Homo sapiens: one gene and its partner. The protein of the gene in region 1 purifies or fractionates together with the protein of each later gene. This does not show direct contact. Each region holds a gene or a part of one and is shown in the gene's direction. Other genes may lie near its edges. The genes, in order: PPP4R3A and PPME1.

Region 1 (7,593 bases):
TTGCTCTTGTCTCCCAGGCTGGAGTGCAATGGCACCATCGTGGCTCACTGCAACCTCCATCTCCTGAGTTCAAGCAATTCTCCTACCTCAGCCTCCTTAGTAGCTGGGACTATGGGCATGTGCCACTATGCCTGGCTAATTTTTTTGTATTTTTAGTAGAGACGGGGTTTCAACATTTTGGCCAGTCTGGTCTCGAACTCTGTACCTCAGGTGATCCACCCGCCTCGGCCTCCCAAAGTGCTAGGATTACAGGCGTGAGCCACTGCGCCGAACCTCCATTTATATTTTTACCATTTTGGAAATAGCCACAAATCTCTCTTCCTCCATTTTGCAGGTTGGAGGTTAAATGACTAAAACAAAATGACTTTAATTTTTATCTAGCAGGGAGAGCTTAACTAAATTACTGATGTGCCCTTGTAAATTTAGGCTGTAAGGAAAACTGAATGCAAAGAATGGACTTAGGCTGGGTGCGGTGGCTCACGCCTATAATCCCAGCATTTTGGGATGCCCAGGCCGACGGATTGTGTGGGCTCGGGAGTTCAAGACCAGCCTGGGCAACATGGCGAAACCCCATCTCTACAAAACATACAAACATTAGCTGGTGCGGTGGCACGGGCCTGTAGTCCTATCTGCTCTGGAGGCTGAGGTGGGAGGGTCACTTGAGCCTAGGAGGTGGAGGCTGCAGTGAGCTGTGATCATGCCACTGCACTGGGTGACAGAGGGAGACCCTGTCACACACAAACACACATACACACACACCATGGACTTAGAAAAAATTCCAGGATACTTGTGAAATACTGTCAGTAATCTTTAGTCGATGATTAACATTTCTTGTCACATCTAAATAGGGATAATAAGTCAAAATTTACTGACTACCTACTATGTGCCAAACTCTTTTAGCAGTTTACTTATATTGACTTACGTAATTCTTACAACAGTGTCTGATTTAGTGCTATTAACCATATTAAACTCCCATGTTACTGTCTACTTGCATTTGCTGCTTTATTAGCCTGAAGGTTTATTTCAAAGAAAATGAAAATTACTTTTAGCCTAAAGATATTTTCGGCCGGGCACAATGGCTCATGCCTGTAATCCCATCACTTAGGGAGGCCAAGGCGGGCAGATCACAAGGTCAGGAGATCGAGACCATCCTGGCTAATATGGTGAAACCCTGTCTCTACTAAAAACATACAAAAATGTAGCCAGGTGTGGTGGCGGGCGCCTGTAGTCCCAGCTGCTCAGGAGGCTGAGGCAGGAGAATGGTGTGAACACAGGAGGCGGAGCTTGCAGTGAGCCAAGATCAGCACCACTGCACTCCAGTCTGGGTGACAAAGCGAGACTCCGTCTCAAAAAAAAAAAAAATTTCAATTATAGTTTATCTACAAGCTTTACATGGATGTTTTTGTGTTGACTGCCAGTTGGGGTCAGCCATTATTGTGTGCTTGCTCCATTCTCCATCATAGGATAATTGATATTTTCTTTTTGTTGTCATGAGCAAAATGGAAAGTATTTCTGATTTTCCATAAATTGAGTCATTTGTCCAATAGAAACTTAAAATTATTGCGCTTTTCCATACTTGGGCTAGACCTAGTCATTATTGTGTTGAAGTTTTTCTTTTCTAAATTACTTGTAGCTTTTCCCCAAAAAAACTTTTGATTTTCAGATTATTTCTTTAGAACAAAATAAATATTTGATTCTTAACACTTTTCAAGTATTTATTGTCTGTAAAATTAAGTTTTTGTGATGTGTTAATCATCCACCTTAGAAATAGGCTATCAGCTAATTTGGTGGTCAGTGCTAGAGATAGTGTGATAGGGGCTTTTGCATACCTGTGAAATAAATGGTGTGTGTTTTTTTTTTTTTTTTAGGCAGAATCTCTGTCATCCTGGCTGGAGTGCAGTAGCATCATCTTGGCTCACTGCAACCTCCACCTTCCAGGTTCAAGGGATTCTCATGCTTCAAGCCTCAAGCCTGGGATTACAGGCGTCTGCCATCATGCATGGCTAATTTTTGTGTTTTTAGTAGGGACACGGTTTCACCATGTTGGCCAGGCTGGTCTTGAACTGCTGACATCAGGTGATCCGCCCTCCTCAGCCTCCCAAAGTGCTGGGATTACAGGCGTGAGCCACCACACCCGGCCGCGTTTCTTTTTTTTAATAAGTTCTCTCAGAAAGGATGACAACATGTCCAAAGTCATTCATCTATTAAGATGGTATGAGTTGGGATTCAAATTCAGGCAATTCATTTTAAACTGTACACACTACTTAGTAATGACAAAGCGTTTGGGAATTTTATAATGTATATAGTGTTAGCATGGGTATAGAAAGGCTGGGTAGTTTTAAAATTCTCTCATTATTGGGTCTATATTTGTGGACGGGGAAGCTATAATAATGCTATCTCAACTGTAGGCTCAGTTCTTGTTAGGGGAGCTTATATGCTCGTCTAAAAATCACAGAAGAGAATTTCTAAATGGAAGTACTTGTGGCCTTCATGTTACAGAGCAGATCTGTCATGGTAAGTACTGTATGCCTTCCCTTCCAAAACCGAGTAACTTGGCACTCAACCTACCTTGCTTTAGAGGAAAAGGGATGTCCCACTAAGCTTCTGGGCCCATTTCTTGGATTGCATCTTTATCCAGTAGGTTTCTGCTGGCAAAATAGGTTGTAAGAACACGTCCCTTTTGTTTTTTGTTTTCTTTTTTTTTTTTTGAGTCAGTGTTTCGCTCTTGTCACTTAGGCCGGAGTGCAATGGCACAATCTCGGCTCACTGCAACCTCCGCTTCCCGGGTTCAAGCGATTCTCCCGCCTCAGCCTTACGAGTAGCTGACATTACAGGTGCCTGCCACCACGCCTGGTGAATTTCTGTGTTTTTAGTAGAGACGAGGTTTCACCATGTTGGCCAGGCCGATCTCGAACTCCTGACCTCAGGTGAGCCACCGCACCCTGCTCTTTTTCTTTTCTTTTCTTTTCTTTTTTTTTTTTTTTTAATTTTTAAGAGCTCTGTTGCCCATGCTGTAGTGCAGTGGCAGGATCATAGCTCACTGTAACCTCAAACTTCTGGGCTCAGTTGATCTTCCCACCTAGCTGGGATTACAGGTGCACACCACTGTGCCTGGGTAATTAAAAAAAAATTTTTTTTTTCTTTTTTTTAAGAGATGGAAGGGGGTGGGTCTTACTTTGTCGCCCAGGCTGGTCTCGAACTCCTGGGCTCAGGCATGAGCCACCATGCCTGGTCCAATTTTTGAATTTTTTCAAAGGTTCTCACTGTATTGCCCAGAATGGTCTCGATCTCCAGATGTGAAGTGATCTTTCCCACTTGGCCGCCTAAAGTGCTGGGATTACACCGCACCTGGCCCATGCTTTTCTTTAAGGAAGATAGATTACCTTATTTCTCTCAGTTTTTATGATAGCCGTATACCTGCAAAGTTCCATCTTCCATTTCAGATTATTTTGTTTTTATTTTTAATTCTTTCAGTGTATGCTGTGTCTGTTAACTTGAAGTAAGGATAATAATTTCATACCTTGCTTATGCTCTCCCTTTGTGGTGAAATCATTATACTACTTTTCTTTCTTTTGTTTTTTCTTCAACTTTTATTTTAAATTCCCGGGTACGTGTGCAGGTTTGTTACATAGGTAAATGTGTGCCATGGTGGTTTGCTGCACAGATCAACCCATCACCTAGGTATTAAGCCCAGCATCCATTAGCTATTCTTCCTGATACTCTCTCTCCCTCTGCCCCTTTGTACTACTTTTCACCATTATGATTTTTACCATATCCACCTGCCAGTTTTACAGTTGATAAATGCAAGGCTGGGGAACAAAGTGAGACCCCCCATCTCTACAAAATAAAAATTTCTAAATTAGCCATGTGTGGTGTTAAACACCTGTAGTCCCGGCTGCTTGGGGCTGAGGCAGGAGGATTGCTTGAGCCCAGAGGTCGAGGCTACAGTGAGCTGTGACTGAGCCACTACTCCAGCCTGGCTGATGAAGCAAGACCCTGTCTCAGAAAAAAAAAAAATGTAGCTCGGGCACAGTGGCCCACATCTGTAATCCTAGCACTTTGGGAAGCCAAGGTGGGGGAGGATTGCTCAAGGCCAGAAGTTCGATACCTGCCTGGGCAACATAGCAAGACCCTGTCTCCACAAAAAGTTTAGAAAATTAGCTGGGCATGTGGCACATACTTGTAGTCTTAGCTACTCAGGAGGCTGAAGCCAGAGAATTGCTTGAGCCCAGGAGTTTGAGGCTGCCATGAACTTTGGTCATGCTACTGCACTCCAGCCTGGGTGACAGAATGAGACCCTATTTCTAAAAACAAAAAATTTAAAAAAGAAAGAAATGTAAGGGAGTTGGAATTCCTCCACACACTGAAGAGTGTCTTTGGCCATAATCATATTTGTGCTCCTTATTACGAAGTACTTGCCAAGGCATCCAGAATAGTGTGCTTACATTGAGTTTTTACCTTGAATTTTATAAAGTATTCTTTACATTTCAAAATAGTTTTATCTGTTCTCTGACTCATATCTTAGAGTTAAACAGGTTAAATTCTCACTGTTACTTGAGGCATGAAGAAAATGAGACATGGAGAAATGTTTTTGTTCAAGGCAGCACTGCTAGCGAATGGTAAAACTGGGATTCTGTGCTGTTTCTGCCTCTTGATAGAACTCCATGTTCATTGTAGGTGGGTCTGCCTCTATCCCTACTGTGATTAGAAAAGGAGGTCAGAACACTTAGGGTGGAAAAGCTTTTGGGGGTAAGAGCTGTGAGAGAAATGAACAGATCAGTCAGTAGTATAGAATCTTGTATATGCCAAGCATTCTGTATATTTATCAAGAAGAGCTCAGTGTCGGTACAAGGGGAAGTATTTCACTTTGAAAAGTTTGTTTATTTAGAGACAAGGTCTTGCTGTCACCCAGGCTGGAGTGCAGTGCCACGATCATAGCTCACTGCAGCCTCAAACTCTTAGGCTCAAGTAATCCTCCTACCTTAGCCTCCCAAGTAGCTGGGACTGTAGACACATGCCACCAGGCCCAGCTGATTTATTTTTAAATTTTTTCAGGGGAGGTGGGATCTTACTGTGTTGCCCAGACTAGTCTTGAATTTCCTGCCTCAAGCAATGCTCCTACCTCACCCTCCTGAGTAGCCAGGATTATAGCTGTGAGCTACCACACCTGGCCCATTTTAGTTTTTAAATGCCACTATGTAATGAGGCATTTAAATTTTTTTCCGAAAAGTCAGGAAAGAAGGACTTGGAGCACATACCTGTTACGGGTTTAAAGCATACTTTAGTCTTGGCCGGGTGCGGTGGCTCACGCCTGTAGTCCCAGCACTTTGGGAGGCCGAGATGGGCAGATCACGAGGTCAAGAGATCGAGACCATCCTGGCTAACATGGTGAAACCCCATCTCTACTAAAAATACCAAAAAAAAAAAAAAAAAAAAAAATTAGCCGGGCTTGGTGGCGGGAGCATGTAGTCCTAGCTACTCAGGAGGCTGAGGCAGGAGAATGGCGTGAACCTGGGAGGCGGAGCTTGCAGTGAGCCAAGATCGCGCCACTGCACTTCAGCCTGGGTGACAGAGCGAGATTCCGTCTCAAAAAAAAAAAAAAGCACACTTTAGTCTCCCACCTACATGAGATTTTGGGCCCCATTGACTTTTCTTTTTTTGAGGCGGGATCTCACTCTTTTGTCCAGGCTGGAGTGCAGTGATCAGGGCTTACTGCAGCCTTGACCACCAGACTCAGGTAATCCTCTCACCTCAGTGTCCCAAGTAGCTGGGACCACAGGTGTACACCACCATACCTGGCTAGTTTTTTCTGTTATTTTTGTAGAGATGGGGTCACCTTATGTTGCCCAGGCTGGCATTAACTCATTTTTGATGGTGCATTCTCTCTACTAATGAAGCATAGTACATAAGTCCCTGCCTTAAGCCTTGAATATTGATAAGGACAATATACTCTAGAAGCTGATGGGTTGAGCTGCTTGCTTAGGAGTGACAAGGGTGTAGCTCTTCTTTCTGAAATCCTTCAGTATTTATCCAAATCAGGGCTGTGGTGAAGACCAAAGTTACTTAAACCCAAACCCAAACACTCCCATATTACTTCCCTGCTACCTGAGTCTAGTTGGTTGATAGTGAAGATAAAACCATAAAAATTACAGGAATTCTCTATACTATCTCGTTTCTTCAGTGAGAGGAAGTTAAATCTTCTAAACAAGTGAATTTTCCAGATGAATAAAAGCTGTGTACCAGAAGGTGTTTTTTGGGTTTTTTTGTTTTTAAATTTTAGAGACAGGGTCTTGGTCTTTCACCCAGGCTGGAGCGCAGTGGTGTGATCATAGCTCATTGCAGCATCAACATTCTGGGTTCAAGCAGTCGTCCTGCCTCAGCTTCCCAAGTAGCTGGTACTACAGGCACATACCACCATGTCCAGCTAATTTTTGCATTTTTTGTAGAGACAGGGTTTGCCATGTTGCCCGGGCTGGTCTTGAGCTGGTCTCCAATTCTTGGCCTCCAGTGATCCACCCACCTCAGCTTTCCAAAGTGCTGGGATTACAGTAATGAGCCACCATGCCTGGCCTACCATAAGTTTTAAAAGTCAGTAATTTTTTTATGGAATGTTGACTAAATGTGTACTGGAATGTTTTTCCTAAACAGTAAATGAATATATTGGTTAACCTCTTATTCGTAATGTGTTTATGGGTCATTATTAATGCTTGGTGTTTATGGGTCATTATTAATACTCGTTTTCCTGCTATACAACAGTACAGTGTTACCAGTGAAATGACTGTATGATGATGCCCTAAAAAAACAAGTATTGAGGCCAGGCGCGGTGGCTCAGCTTGTAATCCCAAGCACTTTGGGAAGCCAAGGCAGGCAGATCATGAGGTCAGGAGATCTAGAACATCTTGGCCAATATGGTGAAACCCCGTCTCTATTAAAAATACAAAAATTAGCTGGGCGTGGTGGTGTGCGCCTGTAGTCCCAGCCACTCTGGAGGCTGAGTCAGGAGAATCACTTGAACCCGGGAGGTGGAGGTTGCAGTGAGCCGAGATCGTGCCACCGCACTCCAGCCTGACAAGAGTGAAATCCGTCTCAAAAAAAAGTATTGAGTGCTGGTTATGTACTACATATTGGGACAGGCACTTGAATAAAAAATTTCAGTTAATGCTAATGGCAACCCTGTGAGGTAGGTATTATTTTTTTCTTAACTATAAATCTTGTTGTATTAACTTGCACCTGGCAAGAAATCTATAATTTTTATGCAAAACCTTTCCTTTTAAAAATATTTGCTGAGTTCTCTGTAATGTAGACTTTGTTAGAAGGATACCTCACTCTGTACTACCAGCCATCTTTATCTCCAATCCCCAGAGGTGTAGTGTTGTGTTGTGTTTTGGTGGGGGTTGGTAGCACCCTACAAGAAAGGGCCTCACATTTCATTTTATAGGAAGAACCAAGATATGAAGCAGGGAGGGAACTTTTTTTTTTTTTTTTTTTTTGAGGTGGAGTCTCGCTCTGTCACCCAGGTTGGAGTGCAGTGGTGCGATCTCGGCTCACTGCAACCTCTGCCTCCCGGGTTCAAGCGATTCTCCTGCCTCAGCT
Region 2 (13,340 bases), on another chromosome or scaffold:
AGGGTGCATTGCCCTGAAGAGCGCTCCTCCTTCCGGTGAAAGTCGTCGGGTTCCCAGCCGGGAGTCTGCGGAGTTCTCATACTCTGTTACCCAGCTTCCTTTGTATGAGTGCTGTTGCGCACTTCCGGTGGAAGCGCTGAAGCGAGTGGGTGGAGTTTACGGAGCCGGTGGGCGGTAGGCGGTGCTACGGGTAGCTGGGTGCTGTCCAAAGGCGACAGGGCGTCGTTAGGGGAGCGAGTCGTGACCGGTTGGGCCACACTCAACGTGGGACGAAGCTTCGCCTACTGTTTGACTACGTGCGTGCAGCCTCCCCTCGATGTCGGCCCTCGAAAAGAGCATGCACCTCGGCCGCCTTCCCTCTCGCCCACCTCTACCCGGCAGCGGGGGCAGTCAGAGCGGAGCCAAGATGCGAATGGGGTACGTGACCCATACCCCTTCTCCCTATGGGCCAGGCCCCAGCCGTTGGAGAATGGTATCTCTGGGCGTTCATAGAGGCACGGGAAAGGAGTCTACTGATAGGAGAAAATGTTGGCGGCCTGGAGATATTTAGATGGAGTAGAAGGCAGATTGGGGTACTAGGGGAGGCGCCAAGTCAATAGAAATTGGAGGAAAAATAACGTTGTTGAAGGGAGAGGGGAATGAGGCAAAGGTTGGGGAAGCTGAGAGACTAACATAAGGGATCTGAGAATCACTTCCACAATAAAGGAGGCTTAGAAAAGGGAGTAGAACGGTGACAAAGGTGGAGGAGAATCGGCCAGGGAAGGTGGAGGGAAGTGGGGAATGACTGAGAGAAAAGTTGAGGGGAATTGGGCCAACAACTAAGGAAAGGTTTGGGAGGAGTAGATATTATCAGAGTTCTAATATCTGCACTGTGAGAACTAGATACTAGAAAAGCTGAGGGGGGTAGAAAACACTCGAGACAGGGCTGGAGAAGGAAAGAGGAGAACTAGGAAGCAGACGATTCTAGAGAATTCCCAGAGGTGTAAAGACAGATTCAGCGAATGAGAGGTGAGATTAGGTCTCTTAAGGGAGAATGAGAAAGTTTAGGGAGTAGGCCTAAGGTAAGGTGGAGAACATAGCCACGAAGATTGTTAAGGGTAGTAGGAATGTGCTGAGAAGCTGGACAGGATAAGGGAGAGAGAAGAAGGAGAGGACTGAAGAATTTACAGAGTGAGAAGCTGGACAGGATAAGGGAGAGAGAAGAAGGAGAGAACTGAAGAATTTACAGAGTGACCATAGGCTCTAAAGATTGAGAGATGACTATAAATACGGTTTGGTGAATGGAAGTGCTGCAGTTGTAAGGTCTGGGAAGCTTAGAGGAAGATTTGGGCAATCAGTTTTTGCTGGGCTAGTAGATCTGAGGGAAGCGACGTACTGGCCTAAGACTTTGAATTAGTGAAGCATTGGGAGTTCGAGAAATAGTTTGCTGGAAAGGAAGGAGAGCCATGTAGAAGAGATAGGTTTTGGAATTTTAGATCGTTAAATGGCTTGTGCCAGGTTAGGGGATACTTGGGCCGAGGAGAAAGAATGAGGTGAACATGGGAGAAGTAATTGCTGGAAAGTGGAGAGAATTGAATAGGCATTTGGTTTTGAGGGGATATTTGTAGTTTCAAACAGGATTCTGGGAATTAGTGACTGTAAAGAGAAAAGGAGTAGGAAAGATACTTAGGTATGAGGGCTCCAGAGTATATTTGGGATTCTAGAGATGAATTGGTAGATATTCTTTGAAAAAGGACTACAGAAGAGAAACCTTAGGTTCTGAAGAAGTAATATGTGTAAAAACTTATCAAAAAGGAGGCGAGAGTAGGAGATGCAGTACTGTGACAGTAAGTCCTAGGGATGAAAAGAAAGGAGAATCCTATAAAACAGTGGGGTAAAGGAATGGGAAAAATGGGTGGAAAAACCAGGGAAGGAAACTAAGAATTGAGTGGAGACCTGCTATGATACGCAGTAGAAAAATGAGAAAACTTTAGCAGGAGGAGATAGAGAGATAGACGCACAATAGAGGTAGAAGGCTACATAGAAGGTAAAGTGAAGATTGTTTTGGCTTTGGAAGACAGAAAAGTTGGACTATAACATGAATAAAGAGAATTTGGAAACTGACCCATAACATTATTTGGGAAAACTAACCTGGAGTTTAATATTAATGTAACATTAATTGTTGTTAAATATCTTAGTTGCTGCCTTTCTTAAAATAAATTTGATTTTTCAGTATACCAGCACCCTTCTATACAAATACATAAGAAAATCAGATTTTTAATAATTATACATTCCTTAGATAAGCTTAATTAGAGCTCAGCTTCTCATCTTGGAGAAACAAGTTCTCTGAAGATTGAAGAACTGAATGAAGATACTGAGAGAAAAAAAAAGGAAAATCTGCTGATTAGAAGATTGTATAATTGTTAGTAATTTATCGTTTTTATTTTTTATTACTTTTCATTTTATTTTTTTTTAGAGACAGAGTCTCACTCTGTTGCCCAGGCTAGAGTGCAGTGGCACAATCTCGGCTCACTGCAACTTCCACCTCCCGGGCTCAAGTGATTCTTGTGCCTCAGCCTCCCAAGTAGCTGGGATTACAGGCATGCACCACCACGCCCGGCTAATTTTTGTATTTTTAGTAGAGAGGGGATTTCGCCATGTTGGCCAGGCTGGTCTTAAACTCCTGGCCTTAAGTGATCTGCCCCACTTGGCTTCCCAAAGTACTGGGATTATAGGAGTGAGCTACTGTGCCTGGACAACTTACCTTTTTAAAAAGATGCTTTGGTCTTCTTGGTTTAGGTTAACTGCTTATCCTGGAAAAGAAAGTTCTTTAGAAAGGCCTTTCTTTATGATAGTATTGTGAAGAGAAGAGCATATATTGGCGAATATTTGTGTGGTCCTCAAATGGCTTATTTTCCCGTATCTTTCTTTTCTACTTTATTGGTATATAAGCAGGCTTCATCTAAGTCTCATGGTAGTAATAATATAGATTCTCTTTCTCCTTAGAATCATAAAGCTGAGAGAAAGCATAGACATGGTCTCATTTCACCACTTCATGTAGTTGAGGAACCCAATATTCAGAGAGTTCTGTATTCTATAAGGGAATGTATTAATAAATGAGGGAACTGAGACTCAGATATTCCTAAGGTACCCTAGAAGCTTAGCGGTAGGGCCGTTAAGGACTAGGACTTGGGTCTCTTGACTGTGAGACCCATTGTGTATTTTGGAGTCATAATTGTCATCTGGGGATACTTATTTTGAGTTGTGTATCTTACTCATTTGCATATAATCTAGGATTCAGTCTTTTTCTTCAGTCGTAATTTATGAAGTCTCACACCAATTTCAAAGCATTCTTTATGTCTCCTTATGCTTACTTGCTTTTTTCTTAACTTCCATTCTTCCACTCTATCTATGTTACTCACAAGTTAGTCCTGTTCTCTTGATAGTCTCTTGTGTGGCTTACTCTTAACTATTTTTCATGATCTCTTGCCTTCAATTTCACTAAACATTATTTAGGCATGTTTGCATATTCAGGGTGCATATTCTGAGTTGGTGATTTTTCATGAGTTTCCATAATTCAGTTTTTCAGATTAGATTTAGTAATTCCAAAGTATTGTTGGATAATTTAATAATAGCAATTTTTAAAGTAAGTACTGTGTGCCAGACATTGTAATGGTAACTTTATGTTATTTAATGTGTCCACAGACCTGCATGGTGAATATTTTCCTGCATTGTGGGTAAAGACATTCAGACCCAGAGATTAAAAGTAACCCAACTAGTAGGTAGCAGAGCTAGGATTCAATCTAAGTTTAGTCTCTAGAATCCATTCACTTTTCAGTACACTAATATTTTCTCTTGGGTAAGGCCTGAAATCCTGGTGTCACTCTTCCTTTTAATAGATGCCAATGGATGTTGCCAAAAACAGTGGTTTTGAACTTCTTTATTAAAGCTTTTAGAGCTACTCTGACTAAAGTAGATTTGAGATCCCTATTTGCTTTGCACCCCTGGTGTGCTTGAGAGAAGTATCTTTTGAAAGTCACTGCTTTCGTATATACTATTACTATTAGAGGAACTATAAAATATTAAAGCCATTCATTATTCAACGTGTTTTTGGTTTATCAGTAGTTGTACTTTTTGGCCAGGTGTGGTGGCTCATGCCTGTAATCTCAGCACTTTGGGAGGCCGAGGCGGGTGGATCACCTGAGGTCGGGAGTTCAAGACCAGCCTGACCAACATAGAAAAACACCGTCTCTCCTAAAAATACAAAATTAGCTGGCGTGGTGGCACATGCCTGTAATCCCAGCTACTCAGGAGGCTGAGGCAGGAGAATCACTTGAACCTGGGAGGCGGAGGTTGTGGTGAGCCGAGATCGCGCCATTGCACTCCAGCCAGGGCAACAAGAGCGAAACTCCATCTCAAAAAAAAAAAAGTTCTACTTTTCTATTATTATCTCTTAAATTCCTTTTTTTTTCTTTTGCAAGAGATAGAGTCTTGCTGTGTTGCCCAGGCTGAAGTACAGTGGCTTTTCACAGGCATAATCTTGGTGCATTACAACCTCAAACTCGTGGGCTCAAGCAGTCTTCCCACTTCATCCTCTTGAGTAGGTAGGACTGAGGATACATGCTAGCATGCCCAGCTCTGTAGTGATTTAACTGACATGTATATAGTAGTCCCTTTTTATATTCTATGAGGTAAACTAGGGCAGGAGTTAATATTTTCTTTTAATAAATGAGAAAACTGAAATGTTCATTGACTTGCCTAAGATCACAGAATCATTATGTGGCAGGAACAACATTCAAACCCAGGACTTCGTATTTTTAGTCCATTGTTCTTTCTATAGCTTGCATTGAAGGGTTTGATATTTGAAGTGACAAAGATCTAAGTTTGAAGCCCAACTTAGGTATTTACATTGGTCGAGTCATTTAACTTCTCATAGTCTATTTTCTTATCTCTAAAATGAGAATACTTCTGCTTACCTGAGAGTGCTGTGAGAATAAGATAATACATAAAAAGCACTTATAGTTCCTGACACTGACACATAAGCTCTTAAAGAATGATAGCTAGTAGATAATTATACATTGAGAACTGTGAAGAAGGTTCATAGTTTATGTGGAAGCTCTCCTTTCAGTTTCTTATGTTATCAGCTTTTTTGTCCCCACAAGCTGTATGTTTATTCATATCTGATTAGATAGTCTTTCATCCATCTTCTTAAATTTATTATGGATATCAGGCCTCTTAGGAAGGCTTTAATGAGCTATTCACACAGATGGGGAAATAAAGGGCAAAGTGAAGTGATTTGCTCAAGGTCACAAATTGAGTTACTAAAATAATCAAATCCCAGTATTTCTGTTTTTTTTTTTATTTTTTCATTAGATTTTTAAAAAGTTAAATTTATATGCCATAGAATTCACTCTTTTAAATGTACAATTCAGTGATTTTTGGTATATTCACTCAGTTGTACAATTACCACCACTAATTGCAGAACATTTTCATCCTCCCATAAACTCGTTACTCATTAGCATCTTCCCTTCCTCCCAGCATGTATTGCTTCTGGATCTTGAGTCACAGAAAGGCTTTTCCTTTTTTTGGGTTATAAAGGAATCATTTATATTTTTTCCTGGTACCTGTGTAGTGTCCTTTTTTTTTTTTTTTTTTTTTTTGAGACAGAGTCTTGCTCTGTCACCGAGGCCGGATGGAGTGCAGTGGTGTGATCTTGGCCCACTACAACCTCCACTTCCCGGGTTCAGGCGATTCTCCTGCTTCAGCCTCCCAAGTAGCTGGGATTACAGGCATGCACCACCACACCCAGCTAATTTTTGTATTTTTAGTAGAGACGGGGTTTCATTATGTTGGCCAGGCTGCTCTTGAACTCCTGGCCCCAGGTAATCCACCCACCTCAGCCTTCCAAAGTGCTGGGATTACAGGCATGAGCCAATTTTTTTTTAATCCATTTGAAGTTTATCTTGATATGCAAAGTGAGGAAAAGAAGACATTTTATTTTTATCCAAAGGCTATCTAGTTGTTTTCATCATTTATTAAATTTTTTAGTCCTTTACCCATTACGTAAATTTCACTACAATAAAGAAATAGTCCTGGCCAGGCTCAGTGGTCCATGCCTGTAATCCCAGCACTTTGGGAGGCCAAGGCATGTGGACCACTTGAGCTTGGGAGTTGGAGACCAGCCTGGACAACATGGTGAAACCTCTTCTCTACAAAAATCACAAAAATTTAGCTGGGTGTGGTGGTGTGTGCCTGTAGTCCCAGCTACTCTGGAGGATCATTTGAGTCCGGGAAGCAAAGGTTGCAGTGAGCCAAGATAATGCCCCTGCACTCTAGCCTGGGACACAGAGTGAGACTTTGTCTCAAAAAAAAAAAAAAAAGTCTTCTTTCTCACTGATTAAAATGACACCTTTGTCATATGCCAAATTTCTATATAAATCCGGGTCTGTGGAGTTTCTTTTACGTGCCACTACTGTACTTTTAATTAGAGGATTTATTAATATGTTTTGATGGGTGGTAGAGGTTGTTTACCCCTCATTCATTTTGAGGATTTTCGTGGTTCCTCTTGTTTTTTTCTCACAAATAAACTTTCTAATCCCATAGACTAGTGCCAGAAAAAAATCCTGATAGTATTTTTATTGGGATTACATTAAATACAAACATTAATTTAGAATAAACGTTTTTATGATGTTGAATGTTCCTTGAAGAAATATGGTATCTTTCAATTTGTATGAATCCCTTTTGAAGGAAATATATTTCAGATTCCAAGTATTGACCTAAGTTATATTCAATCTAATATTACTTAAATTCAATAGTACTCTTAAATAATTGTGAAACTCAGTAGATTTACTCTTTAAATACAATTAAGTCTACAAAAATCCCCAAACTCACATTAGCAACATTATATTGATGTGAAACAATCTAATTTGCTGTTATCAGTTTACTGTAGTTTAAACTACAAGGACATTTATTATTGATAGGATGTTCCAGGGTTCATTCAGTTGCTAAACAATTTCATTCAGGACCCAGGCTGTTTGCATCCTTTCTTTTGCCATCCTTAGAATGGTGGCTTTTCCTTCTCTTGCTTGTCACCTTATGGTTGCAGGATGGCTGCTGCCACTCTACTTCTATCTTATCTTTACAAATAAAAAGAAGCGGGGGCCAAAGTCCTTTCCTAGCTAAGCTTGTCTTTTAATTTTTTCCCAGAAATGCAAGCTCCCCAACAGATTTTTCCCTTAAGTCTTATTGTCCAGAACTGTTCACATACCCATCCTAAAACCAATCACTGGCAGTAGGGAATGGGATTAACTATGACTGGTTTAGACCAATTTTGATTCATTCCCTTGGACTGGAGGAGAGACAACAAGAGATCTCCACTAGCTGCTCAAACAAAAGTATTACAATTCTGTTAGGGAAGAGAGAGTGGGAAGTGGGCAGGTAATGTCTGGAATAGAGAATAAACAGCATCTGGCCCAAATCCTGAGGTTAACAAGTGGAGAAGCCTAATCTTCTGATTTCAACTTCCCTACTGTTTTCATTGCAGTGTAAGTATAGGAAGTAATAATCCCACCCCCAACTCCCCTGCCCCTTATTGCCAGATTTCAGCCCCTTGACATTCATTTCAGAACTTCTGAGTAAAAGTCCGTTTTTCCATTGTTGCTTATTGCCAGCAAATCTATTTCTTCTTAGTATCTCCAAAATTGGGTAATTTGCTCTTTTGTTTTATTTTAAACCTAATGAGCCTTCCATGTTATGCTACTTGATGTCAGATTTCAGAAAACATCTCTAGTTGTTTGGGAAAGACTGTTTCCTTCAAACTACAAAATAGTTTTTTTTTTTTTAAGAGAAGAAACTTTTAATTAATAGTTCTATTAAGAGGGTGGCCACACTTAGATATTCTTCAAATACAATATTGATTACAAGTTACAGGTATATTCTACCAATATATTTTGAAGATTGAATAAGAGATTATATTGAAAATTCCAATCATTTCAAACCACACCGGAAGACCGAAGTTGTTTACTTATCAGTCCTTTTCCTATATGCTTCTGTGTGTGTTTTTGGCCATAGACTTTTTCCAGGTTTAAGTAGACATCCTCTCTCTGCCACTAACAAGTTGTATGACTCTGGTCAGTTTCTCTTCCTGGGCCTCGTTATCATGGAAAGAAAGAACGCTTTGGCACCTGACGTACTTGTTTAAATCCAAGCTCCCCAGCCTGGGCAACATAGGAAAAACTTGTCTGTACTAAAACAAAACAAAACAACCAGGCATGGTGGTGCGCACCTGTTAGTCCCAGCTACTTGAGAGACTGAGATGGGAGAATCACTTGAGCCTGGGAGTTTGAGGTTGCAGTGTGCTGTGATCGTGCCACTGCACTCCAGCCTGGGAGACAGAATGAGACCCTATCTCTAAAAATAGTAATTATAAAATAAAAAGTCAAATCCAAGCTCCGGTGCTACCAAAAATGGCTCTGGGAAAGTTATTTAGTATTTCTGAGTCACCTTAAAATGAGAATACTTTAATGGTACTGTTCAAAACCATGCTTGGTACGTAATAAACACCTAGTTGTTTCCTTTCATAAAGTAAGATTTGAGTTAGATGATCTCTAACAGCATGATTCATGATGTAGTTTTTAGAATCCTGAAGTCTGCTGCTTAATGGCATGCCTTGGAGTAAGGAACACTTCAGACCTACCACAACCCTCAGCCAGCCATCTGGTTGCTTTCTTTTCATTCTCTTCAAAGTACTGCTAATAAGGACATTTTAAAAACAGTGGTGCCTTGATTTAAATAGCTGGCTGCAATTAAACTTCAGTATTTAGCCTCCACTACCAGACTCCTAGACTTTGACAGAATTTGTGACAACAAGTGATTAAGACTGCTACTGTGCCCATTCATGACTCATCAATAACTCTCTTAACAGACTTAAGCAGCCTAGATGTTGATGTGTTATTCCTATTTAGATTTGAGACATTCATGTAAAAACATACAACTTACATTTCTTGGTTATTGTTCTCTAGGCAAGGAAGGTTTTTCCTCCTTCCCTTTCTCCCCTTTCTCTCCTTCCTCCTGGCTTTCCTTAGGATTTGATCATATAATTTTGTTGGTTTTGGTCATTATCTCCTAGTAGGCATATCACATTGTAGACAAGCAGAACATTCTCTATTCTCCTTAGTCCTCTGAATTGTAATTATTGGTCAACTGTGTATTCCTCAAAACTGTTGAGGTTCATAAGGGTAGGAATTGTGTCTGAATTTTGCTGGTGCTTAGAATGCTGTCTCCTTTAGTGCTAACTGAACGAGAAACCCAAATCCTGGCCTATTTAACCCCGTTCTATAAGAACAACGTTATTTCCCCATCAGTTCCCTTAAGATGGTATAACTAGGGCTATACTGCCTTTCTCCTAAAAGCGGTTATACTTCATAGAATAATAGAATCTCTATTTCAATACCAGCTTTTAGGTAAAATGTATTGTGTTTACAATATGTTACTTTGAGATTTAAAATAATTATATGGTCGAAACTCTTGTAATAGGTCTTGTAATAGGCTTGTAATAGGTCTCATGATATGTACAGATTCAGGCTTGTTACTTTTATTTTATCAAAATTTGACAATTTATGTCTTCCTCTTTGATTCCCCAAACCTGAAAGCAAGTCCACTATTATAAGACAGCAAATGTCAATTAGCAATTATTTTCACACTAGCCTTATTTTATAGTATTCAATTTTTCTGCCCTTGCCCAATTTATCACTTATTCTCTAAGAGCGAAGACTATTTTCCAAGCACCTTCACCAAGTTTAGGGACCAGAGCAAGTGGTCCACCATTAAAGGCTAGTGTTAAAAGCGCTCCAAAGTCATGTCCTAAGCAGTGGTAATTTCCTAAGTGTTTCTTGCACTTAACAATTGCCAAGTTTATTTTGTTGGCAATGCCTTCCATTTTCTTCACTTTTTTTTTTTTTTTTTTTTTTTTTGAGACGGAGTCTCGCTTTGTCGCCCAGGTCGGACTGCGGACTGCAGTGGCGCAATCTCGGCTCACTGCAAGCTCCGCTTCCCGGGTTCACGCCATTCTCCTGCCTCAGCCTCCCGAGTAGCTGGGACTACAGGCGCCTGCCACCGCGCCCGGCTAATTTTTTTTTTGTATTTTTAGTAGAGACGGGGTTTCACCTTGTTAGCCAGGATGGTCTCGATCTCCTGACCTCATGATCCACCCGCCTCGGCCTCCCAAAGTGCTGGGATTACAGGCGTGAGCCACCGCGCCCGGCCCACTTTTTCAACTCCTATCCATCTTTAAAACTCATGAAGCACTTTCAGACTACTTTAGTTCATTCATTTGCTCTCTCTTCTCTGAGCACCTATAACAATTTTGGCATCTCCACTCATCAATTGTTTGCATTGGTATTGTACTTTTTCACTGTTACTGTGTCAGACTTATCGAAGATAATTTTATGCAGATTTTTGTGTGTTTCCTCAATAACATTTAGAACTCCTGTAGTGCAAGGACCTTTGTTTCTTTGTGCTTTCTACTGTAACACAGTTAAATGTTTTTGTAAAATTTAATTTAATGGACACATAGCACAAATTCATTTAAAATAAAGTTCTGAGGCTTTTTCTGATCAGTCCAGCTTGCACCGATTTTTCTATTTTCTGTCCTTTGGTGGCACCTGTCATTTTACCAGGAATCAGCAAACATTTTCTGTTAAAAGCCAGATAGTATTTTAGGCTTTGTGGGCCATGTTAGTCTCTGTTGCAGCTACTCAGCTCTGCTGTTTTAGAGTGAAAGTAGCCACAGACAATATGTAACTGAATGTGTCTGTGTTCTAACAACACTTTATGGACACTGAAATTTGAATTCCACATAATTTCCACATGTCATTAGTCTCTCTTCTCCCCCTGCCCTCCACCTTTTAAAAATGTAAAGATCATTCTCTGATCCTGGGCCATGCAAAAATAGGTGGTGGGCTGGATTTCCCGTAGGCTGTAGTTTGCCAACCCAGTTAGTTCTATACTTCTACTGTCTTGTAGTAGAAGGAAGGTAGGTTTTAAAATCAACAAACTAGGATTCTCTTCCTGGCTTTACTACTTACCGCTTAACTGGTGCAAACTTGACTTTATTTTTTTTTAAATGTAGATAATAATGCTAGCCTCATAGAATTTTTGAGGAGAAAATGAGATGATTTATGTGTAGAAATATTATTTAAATTGGAAAACTGTCTAATGGAAACTTACTGTATTTCCTCAATTCTAAGATACATTTCTTTTTTACATTTAAATTGATAATGTCTTTTTTTTTTTGAGACAGAGTTCTCACTCTGTCACCCAGGCTGGAGTGCAGTGGCATGATCTCGGTTCACTGCAACCTCTGCCTCACAGGTCCAAGCAACCCTTCTGCCTCAGCCACCCGAGTAGCTGGGTTTACAGGTGTGTGCCACCACGCCTGGCTAATTTTTGTATTTTTAGTAGAGACAGGGTTTCACCATGTTGGTCAGGCTGGTCTCAAACTCCTGACCTCAAGAGATCTGCCCACCTTGGCCTCCTAAAGCATTGGGAGATAGTGTCTTAACAATGCTGTTGGTCAGGTAACAATTCTAACATGGTTCTCATTGCCTGAACATAAGTGAACACCAAAACCAGAATCAAAATTTACAAAACGTATACATGTTGAGAACTTCTTAGAGGTAAAACTGGACTGCTCTTTTAACCACTAGGAACTGAATGCTTGTGAGGAGGCGTGGGTGTTCAATCGGGTGGGTTGAGCAACATTCCTAAAGTGAGAGTCAAAAGTAAGGCTGAGGCCAGGCACCATGGTTCATGCCTGTAATCCCAACACTTTGGGAGGCTGAGGTGGGAGGATTGCTTGAGCTCAGGAGTTCAAGACCAACCTGGGCAACATAGCTAGACCTTGTCTCTACCAAAAAAAAAAAAAAAAGTACGGGCTGGTGCAGTGGCTCACGCTTGTAATCCCAGCACTTTTGGAGTTCGAGGTGGGAGGATTGCTTGAGCCCAGGAATTTGAGACCAGCCTGGGCAACATAGTGAGACCACATCGCTACAAAAAGTTAAAAAATTAGCCAGGCATGGTAGCATGTCCCTATAGTCCCAGCCACTGGAGAGGCTGAGGTGGGAGGATGAATTGAGCCCAGGAGGTTGAGATTGCAGTGAGCCATGATCGTGACACTGTACTCCAGCCTGGATGACAGAGGGAGACCCTGTCTCAAAACAAAACAACAACAAAAAAAGTAAGATAGCTCTAAATAATTGTAAAGCTGGCATATGAACTGGTGTTTAGTTATATGAAACATTCCATCACCAATGTTCTTGTGAGGCACAGAAAACTATATTGGTCCAAGTGATTCAAAAGAGAGTGGGACTCCAACTATGAAGAAATGGTCAGGAATACCTTAAGTATTTTATTCTGCTTTCATTTATATATATTATATATATGTCTCCATAAGTAATATATAATGGATCTATATAAGTGTAAAAGAGCTATTTCTTCTATAGAAAAATAGAATGAATTCTTTTTTATATAAAAAATGTAAAATGAATTCTAAGTGATAAAGTATTGTGTCATACTTGATAGTTCTTTTTCTTAGTTTTTCATCTTACAAATTCTTTTTCTTAGCTTTTCATCTTACAAATTGATGGTGCCTTGTACATACTGTATTTCATCTATTCTAGCAACAAGATTGTGATCTGCTTGTTTAGTTTTCTTAATTGTAAACTCCTTTTGTATGTTATTTACTTGTCCTAAGGCAGTTAGCATTTAGGAGCTCAATAAACATTTGTTGAGTGAATGAATGACACTCAGATGCAATGGAAACATCACATTTTCCCAATAGCAATAGTTTAGAATTGTCCATCCTGAATTTAATAGAGAAGTAAATGGGAGGGAGGAGCCATAGACTTAGAGTGAAATTTAAAAAATATGATTATTGAAAGCTTGCAAAAATGAACTCGTGCCCTATTTATATTCTTTTGTGATTCCATATTTATATCTCTCTGTCTTTATTCTTTTAAGAAATATATCTTAGGTGGCTGTGAGGATTAAATTTGTATAATGCTTATAAAGTGCCTAGTACATATACATGTCTAGCTTGTTTCATTTAATCCTTTTCATTCCTTTAATTAAACAGCTTTTCCTTAAGCATAAGAACCATTGTTCATTATATATAAAAACCACTTTTAATTGAGTTTTTCTCTGTTAATTAACTGAACTATATTATTAGCTGGGTTTCATAAAAAATGGCATTTTAGCATATTATGGATAAGTAGGCTTGGGAGTGGAGCTACTCATAGAATTTACCAATATTTTATAACACTGTTGGGAGAAATGTGTCTTGGTATTCCCACCATCAACTCATT

The links.
Region 2: the proteins of PPP4R3A (region 1) and PPME1 purify together in Homo sapiens (affinity purification with mass spectrometry; 2 studies listed by BioGRID and IntAct, with this or other methods). This does not show direct contact.

The regions. Positions count from the first base shown.
Region 1 is NC_000014.9:91,499,718-91,507,310, reverse strand, and holds part of PPP4R3A (serine/threonine-protein phosphatase 4 regulatory subunit 3A), read left to right. Parts: intron 1-7,593. UniProt on the Homo sapiens protein: Regulatory subunit of serine/threonine-protein phosphatase 4. May regulate the activity of PPP4C at centrosomal microtubule organizing centers.
Region 2 is NC_000011.10:74,171,106-74,184,445, forward strand, and holds the start of PPME1 (protein phosphatase methylesterase 1), read left to right. Parts: upstream 1-183; 5' UTR 184-316; coding exon 317-417; intron 418-13,340. UniProt on the Homo sapiens protein: Demethylates proteins that have been reversibly carboxymethylated. Demethylates PPP2CB (in vitro) and PPP2CA. Binding to PPP2CA displaces the manganese ion and inactivates the enzyme.